2 linked regions of the Homo sapiens genome follow. The protein of the gene in region 2 purifies or fractionates together with the protein of the main gene of each other region. This does not show direct contact. Each region holds a gene or a part of one and is shown on either strand. Other genes may lie near its edges.

Region 1 (3,753 bases), about 38 Mb from region 2:
GTGAGAGAGACAGAGGAGAGAAACGCTCTTATGATCTTGGCTGTCATTTTCTCTTTATTGCGAGGAACGAAGGAGAGAACAGCATGAGCCAGCCACAGGGAATTAGAGGTAGAGGGGGTTTGAAGGGAACAGCTGTTTTTAAAAGAGGTGACAAAAGCAGGCAAGACTTAAAGGCCTGGCCTTGGCAGTAGTCAGTTGAGGGAGAGAGAAAGTTAGTCTGATTTCTTGTTCTGTGGGTTGCCCTGGAGGTAAATGTGAAAAATCATGATAGTCTCTCCTATATAGGGCTAGGCTAGCTTTTTTTACTTCCTTAGGGCATATATGAAAGCAGTTTTCCTGGGATTGGGCTCAACTTGCTCTTCTGTGTTTCCTTTTTCTTCTCACCCTCTGCTACATATCCACACATCCAGTTTTTCCTGCCAGCAAGCTCCTCCTTTTCTCCGGCTGCTAGTCCCAGCTGTCATCTTTGCCTCCCATCCCCCATCCCCAGTTATGCAATTTTACATTACGCTTCTCTTGGGTTTGCTGCCTCCATTTTTAATGCTCTGCCTGCTACCCCCTCCAGCATCAGCTTCTAGTCTCTTCCTCCCTCAAAGCCAGTAACCACTGTTCAGTTTCCCTCTTTATCACTGTTGCTCTGAATGCACTGATATTAATACTTTCCCAAAACTCTTGCAGATCTGGGCCCAGTCACTTAAGATAGTGGGTGGAGACGATGGTGGGGAAGAGGGTGGGGTAGGAGGTTGTCTTACAAAATTTAGGGTTTTTCCAAAATATTGGATGACCCTTGACCTAGAGAGCAAACAGATGCTTCTGTTGGCCTCCCAACTTTAGGCAGTGTGTGCTTTCTTGTTGAAGGTACATATTTGTTTGAAAGCCCTTAGTAATGAAAGGCAGGGCAGTGAGTCAGGCTCTGAACCTCCTGCTGCTGCTGCTGAGAGCCAGTTCTTTTCCTGAATTGAAGCTAATTTTGGATGGATAATAAGGTGGATGGTTGCTAATAACTTTCCCTTGCTAATTGTGATTTCACAGTACTTTGTAAAGAGGGTTCTTTTCTCTTTTCTCTTTTTCTTTTTCTTTTCTTTCTTTTCCATGCTGTTTGGAGGGGGAATAGATCTCTTTTCATGGTTTTTGATGAGTGTTCAGCTATCAAGGAATTCCTTAGTTTGTTTAGAGGCAGCACAGTTTATTGGAAAGAACCCTAGACTAAGCTAAGACCTGCATTCTAGTCCCAGCCCCACTCAGGATTAACTGCCTAAGTGATTTTGGGCAAGTCATAAACCTGTCTCCGCACCTGCCCTATGTATGAACCTTGTGGAACTGTGCGAATGAAATGAGATGTGATGTATGTGGAAGCTCTTTGCAAACTGCGGAGTTTTATAAAACTTTCAGGTGCTGCCCTTTATTAATTTGGCTCCTGACTACAGCATCAGAGAAATTTTTCCAGTGTCTTGTAAATTCCTTCCTTCTCTGAAGCCAGCCTTCTCCAGAGCAGGGCATTGGAATCATCAGAACTAGAGGCAGTCTTGCCTCAGAATCATCTTATCTTTTCACACTGTTCACCCTCCCCCCAGTTGCTTTAAGAACTCTTTGACCCAGTGCTTCTCTATCTCCATTCTCTAGTAAGATTATAATTTTATGGAGTTAGTGATCATAGTATGTTGCACAATTGGTCAAAGGTTCCTGGCTTTTTGTGGCCAGGAATTATTATTAATTAATTTATTAATTAAACTAAGTGGTGACAAAGCATATCTTTAACTTAAGTAACTACAAAAACCTTTTCAGGCCAGTGAGACACATTGACCACAGTTGTGGTAAGTGTTAAGAGACCATGCTTTCACTTTGGATTCCAGGCCAGACTCTTTGTTATTAGCTTGTGACCGTGGGCAAAATATTTAACTTTTTTGGACGTTAGTTTCCACATCTTTAAGAAAAATTATAATGGCACTTATCATAATGAATAAATGAATTTTGAATATGATAATGAATAAAGTGCTTAGCACATTGCCTAAACATATAATGCATACTTAGAAAATGTCACTGTTACTCTATATGTCTAATAATGGTAATAACAATAATGGCCTTCAAAGACCATTGTTGGCATTTTAAAGGGTTTTTTATCTTGTGTTTTAAAAGTTCATTTAAATATACATCCTATAATTTACTAATGCAAAGAACATTTTTGTCTTGGTCCCATTTTCCTTGATACAGGTAGAAAATTGAACTGACTCAGATCAGCATTCCTTACTCTTAGCAGGAAGTCTTGCCCAGGGTGGCATGATCTGGCTGAGTGACTCGCCCAGTTGTGTGCAGTGGGAATCATAGTCAGACTGTTTCTCAGCTACCTGTGACTTGTGTGTTATTAGGACTTGGGGTTACAGTGGAATTGGATGGATTCTTGGTGAAAGGATACTTTCAGGCATCTTTTTTACATTAGCATTGTCAACAGATTGATAAACAGGCTTAAGTCTAAGGCTGCTTTGAAGTACAATACAGAAGAAGGGAAAAAGTACAAAAGAAATCCACTAACAGTTCTAGGGCATAATCGAGTACATAATTACCGCATTTGAGAGGCTGTAACTCCCCAAGTTCACAGATAATGTGATAAGACCATTTGTGATTACCACTTATGGTCAAGAATATGATTAAAACAGAATAATACTTTTACTGCATTTCAGGGATTTACTGATATCCAGTTTTCTCTGGTGATTGAGCCAGTAGTAAAATAAATAAAACCAACTTCCTTTACTTCCCCTCCCTCCCTCCCTTCCTTTTCTTTCTTTCTTTCTTTCTTTTTTTTTTTTTGACGGAGTCTCGCTCTGTCGCCCAGGGCAGAGTACAGTGGCACGATCTTGGCTCACTGCAACCTCCGCCTCCTGGGTTCAAGTGATTCTTCTGTCTCAGCCTCCCGAGTACCTGGGACTACAGGTGAGCACCACCATGCCCAACTAATTTTTGTGTTTATAGTAGAGACGGGGTTTCACCATACTGGCCAGGCTGGTCTTGAACTCCTGACCTCATGATCCTCCCGCCTCAGCCTCCCAAAGTGCTGGAATTACAGGTGTGAACCATCACGCCCGGCCCTCCTTTACTTCTTTGTTTATATTAGCTGGCATTGACTTTGACAGGTGGGCAGGTGGTAGTTTGTGAGACCGAGACATGGCTCCTTGGATACCACTTTATTGGGCAGTGAGCTCAGCTCTTCATGCAGGGGCTTGGGGGCTCCTTTCTGTAATTCTAAAGCTTCTCCTGCATCTGAGAATGACATCTGTTGGGCTTCTTGGGGCCTCTGGTAGATATTTCCTTACAAGGAATGCATGCTGGATCTGAAGAGGTAGTTTAAAATGGCATATTAAAGGCAGAACGTTTAGTCTAAGCCTGTTAATCACTGCATTCCTGTGCTCCCCAGAGTCTGAAAATGTCAGGAATTGAAAGACTAGTATGAATTTGGAGGTCTTGGCCTCTACTTGAGTAAGTATAGTACCTCCATTAATGTTCTTAGTCCATGGTGTGGGGTTATCACCAAAGGCAAATACTGCTATGGATGTAAACAGGAATTTTTCCACTTAGTAACCTCCATTTTCAGCTAGCCCTGTTAACATCCTTGGCTTCTGGACTGTAGGAAAACAGTTCCATTTATTTCATCCTTTCCTCTGGAATGTTCTTAATTTGATGTTGGCAGATCCTGACCTCACTCCCTGCTTACTGCACAGGGGCTGGCTTGGCTTATGCAGCAGGCCTCCCAGGGGACGT
Region 2 (3,753 bases):
TATATATATATATATATATATTATGTGTATGTGTGTACTATATGTATGTGTAGAGATGGCTGAAGTGCTGATAGTGCTGATGTTTCACGTCATCAGTGTAAGTCAGCATCTTGTTTTTTATCTCTGCAGAATTTGAACCCACCAAGTGTGTCAAACTTTGTCATTAGCTAGGTACTCAAATCTTTAATTTGATCCTTTAATTGCTGATGGTAGCCATTTGTTAGATTTCTTATGGTGGAGCAGAATTTGTTTTTTTTTTTACTTTCTCATAGAGAATAGTTTTTTTTTTCCCAATAATTTCTATGAAATTATTTTATATATATATATATATATATTCCTTAAGTGGAATAATATATATTATATATATTCCTTAAGTGGAATAATATATATTATTATATATATTCCTTAGGTAGAATATATATATTTCATATATAATTATATAATAAATGTTTAGCTGGGATGTAAATTGAAATCATTTTCTATTTGCAAATCACTTCAAATATATTTGCTATCACAAAGCAAAAAGTTACCATATTTTGTTTAGAATATTCTTATATATATATAGTTTCTTAAGCTCCTGTGAGTAGCAGCCCTAGACATTCAGATTCGGTTGCTCAGTTTGTTTATGATTTAGAAATTAATGGGTTTTTTTTGCATTGTAATATATTCTGAAGAGTCAAGTAAATGATATGTTCTGTTTTGATATCTAGTGATTTTATGTTGAATAATGGTCAGTAGCATGATATTTGTCCCTCTCTTGATTTATTGTTTAGTGGTGGGAAGGACAGCTGCTATAATATGATGCAGTGCATTGCTGCTGGGCATCAGATCGTTGCTTTAGCAAATCTAAGACCAGCTGAAAACCAAGGTAAGTACATGCCTTTATTGGGAAGTTGCCTAAATGAATGAAATTCCAACTTCATAATTACATTGTACAGGTATACCGTACAAAGATGAAAAAAAAAGAACCAATAAATATTAAGCACCCATTAGATGCTAGTTTCCACCTAGAACTTAGCATTAAGTGTTTTCACTTACTTTTTAATTCTCATAACCAACTTCTATAGAGATGCACTATTAATCTTAATAGACAGGGATCCTGAAGCTTAGAGTTTGTCTGAAGTAAACTAGCACAAACTTGTAGAGTTAAGACTTGAACCTTCTTACTTCAAAGTACACTACCATTTTACCCCACCACATTCCCAAGTACTGTAGGCAGCATAGAGGTAGATAAGATACAGTCTCAGGCCTCAAGGAGCTTGAGAAGTAAGACACATATTGATAAATGATATATTAATTTTATTATTAAAAGGATACAGTTTACCTATTTTAGATGTAAGCCAGAAATGTGAGACTTGAGAGAAGCATAAAGCAATGCATTCCCACTTTTCATTTGTCTGTAGTAACAAGGGCATCCACATATAATTCACAGACCTCATATTGACTACTTTTTTCATTCTTTTCTCCAATGAAATATCCCCAATTATAGCTTTTGAAAAAAGAAATATATTCACCAATTTGCTTTTTAATGCTATTGTGTTATACCTATGAAACTACAGATATTAACTGCTAAAATGTAAGAGGGAAAAAAGATTAGCACTTTTGTGACTTTTGTATTACTGCTTCTCACAGGACTTTTCTAGTAAGATCTTTTTATTCTCTCTTTTACTTCTTTCCAGGCTCCATGTTTTTGCACTGTTATTTTAAGATTAATTAAATGAGTGGTGTATGTGAGAACATCAGTCGTAGTTCCTGTCATGAAGTAGGCATTCTGTAAATTTAGCTGAATTGGAATCTAGCTAAATACTTGTTTTATATCTTTAAATGGATTGATTATAAGCTTCTTGAGAAGAGAGATCATATCTTCTATCTTCCTTTTATTGCTCCTCATCACTTGGGCCGGCTCTATGCCTCTGGTAGGAGTTCACGCAAGGTTGATTGGTGGACAGGTGTATAATGAACTAATTTGGATTAGCCCTGGAATAGTGAGCAGTTATTTCAGTCAGATATTTGAATCTTCTTTCCTTCTGTGATTAAGATGTAAGTAATGCTGGATGTCGTGTGGAAAGACAGAGTTTAGAAATATTTTATAGGAAGAAATGGAAAGGTCCCACAGAGAGTCAGAGGTAAATGCACATGTTTGGATTTTGTGCTGCAATTGATGAGTAACAGATGGTTTTTTAGAAGTGATGTTTTTTGAAAGAGTTCCAACTTTAAGAAAGAGAAAATTCTTTGAGGATGAATAGGAACTGCACTCTAACTTCTGTATTATAAAAGAAGAAGCAGAATCTCCTGTTAGGTTTACCAAAAGAGAGAAACTCCCTTATCCCTTGTGGCCAGGGGGAGGCAACTGGGACTTTCAAGCTATCTTGTGAAGTTAAAAAGCAGATGTTTATATAGTATATAATACATACATGGTATATTATAATTTCATCACTGGAGTTTCTATCTTGTTTTCAGCTTTCACATGAATTATTTTACTTACCTAGTACAGAACCATTAATATATAATCTTCCTTGTGTTCATGGTTCACCAGCAGGGTGGTAAAATGACAAGCAAAGTATATTTTTAAATTATACCTCTCAGTAGAATAGAGACACTTATTTAGAATATTGTTAGTGAGAAAAAATTTGATAGTAAATAGAATTAGAATATTCTGAAGTAAAAAGCCTGGAAAAGGCAGTCGAAACAATAGTAATTGTTGTAGAAGAAAACAGATGGCTGTGGGTTGGTAGATGGAGATGGTTTAGCTCATCTTGATGAAAATCAGCAGGACATTGGGAATTATTGAACAATTCACTGAATGACTTATTTTCCTATGAGTGTTATGAAAGAAACCTTAGTGAGGAATGACTGGTAGAGATGACTCCAATGTCCAGCAAAGTTACGGGTTTTCAATGGGTGGTGTGAAAAGGAATTTATTCCCATCAATGAGGATAATGCGAACTTGTCATAAAATTCACAAAACCATCTCTTTAGATTTGTAGTAGGAACTTTTGTGGCATGTTAATTGAGTTGCTTCAGGCAACAGGGGAGCCTTTGGTTTTATTTGATCTCACACTATTGTTGCTCTGTAGCTTCCATTAATCAAAGTTACAATGTGGTTAGGACTAAATAGAGCCTTAAAGAAAATTATCTTCTAGGTTTTTGAAGCCAGTGAGATGTTTTACTTATTATGCTAACATCAGAATGTTTCTTGCCAAGAAGCCCAAATTTCTTTGAGTAAATTGGTTTGATTGTATCAATATCCTTTAAAATGAATGTATTTAAAGATCCAGTCTAATTTTGAGACGAGAGAAGGCCGAAAGGTTTTTAGGTAACTTTGGCTATGTTCTCTACTTCCTACTGGGACCAGGAGTGGAAACATTTATAGTAACAATGTGAGTAATATTCTGAAGGAAGCCAATCTAACAATGTGTGAGTTCAGAAACCTGTCAGCCAAAATGGGGTAGCAGATTTTGATGATTTTGATTGTTGAAGGGGCCCTTGCACTATCACTTTTCATTCCTTTTGATAGGAAGTTTTCACATTTAATGGAAAGCCTGGACCTGTTTGGCTTATATTCATACATACACACATAGGTATATGTCAAAATAACTACTTTGTAATTTTTTTAATAGCATTTTGTGAACATTTTCCATGTCATTAAATATTATTCTACGATAGCATTTCCCATATGTCTTTAGAACACAAATACCCCCATTAAATTTACGTGTTCTGTGGGTAGATAAATTTGAGAGATAGTTCATATTC

Evidence for each region. The genes of interacting proteins can lie anywhere in the genome.
Region 1: the proteins of DPH6 (region 2) and NPTN purify together in Homo sapiens (co-immunoprecipitation; 2 studies listed by BioGRID and IntAct, with this or other methods). This does not show direct contact.

The regions. Positions count from the first base shown.
Region 1 is NC_000015.10:73,598,664-73,602,416, reverse strand, and holds part of NPTN (neuroplastin isoform b precursor), read left to right. Parts: intron 1-3,753. UniProt on the Homo sapiens protein: Probable homophilic and heterophilic cell adhesion molecule involved in long term potentiation at hippocampal excitatory synapses through activation of p38MAPK. May also regulate neurite outgrowth by activating the FGFR1 signaling pathway.
Region 2 is NC_000015.10:35,539,528-35,543,280, reverse strand, and holds part of DPH6 (diphthine--ammonia ligase), read left to right. Parts: intron 1-773; coding exon 774-868; intron 869-3,753. UniProt on the Homo sapiens protein: Amidase that may catalyze the last step of diphthamide biosynthesis using ammonium and ATP. Diphthamide biosynthesis consists in the conversion of an L-histidine residue in the translation elongation factor (EEF2) to diphthamide.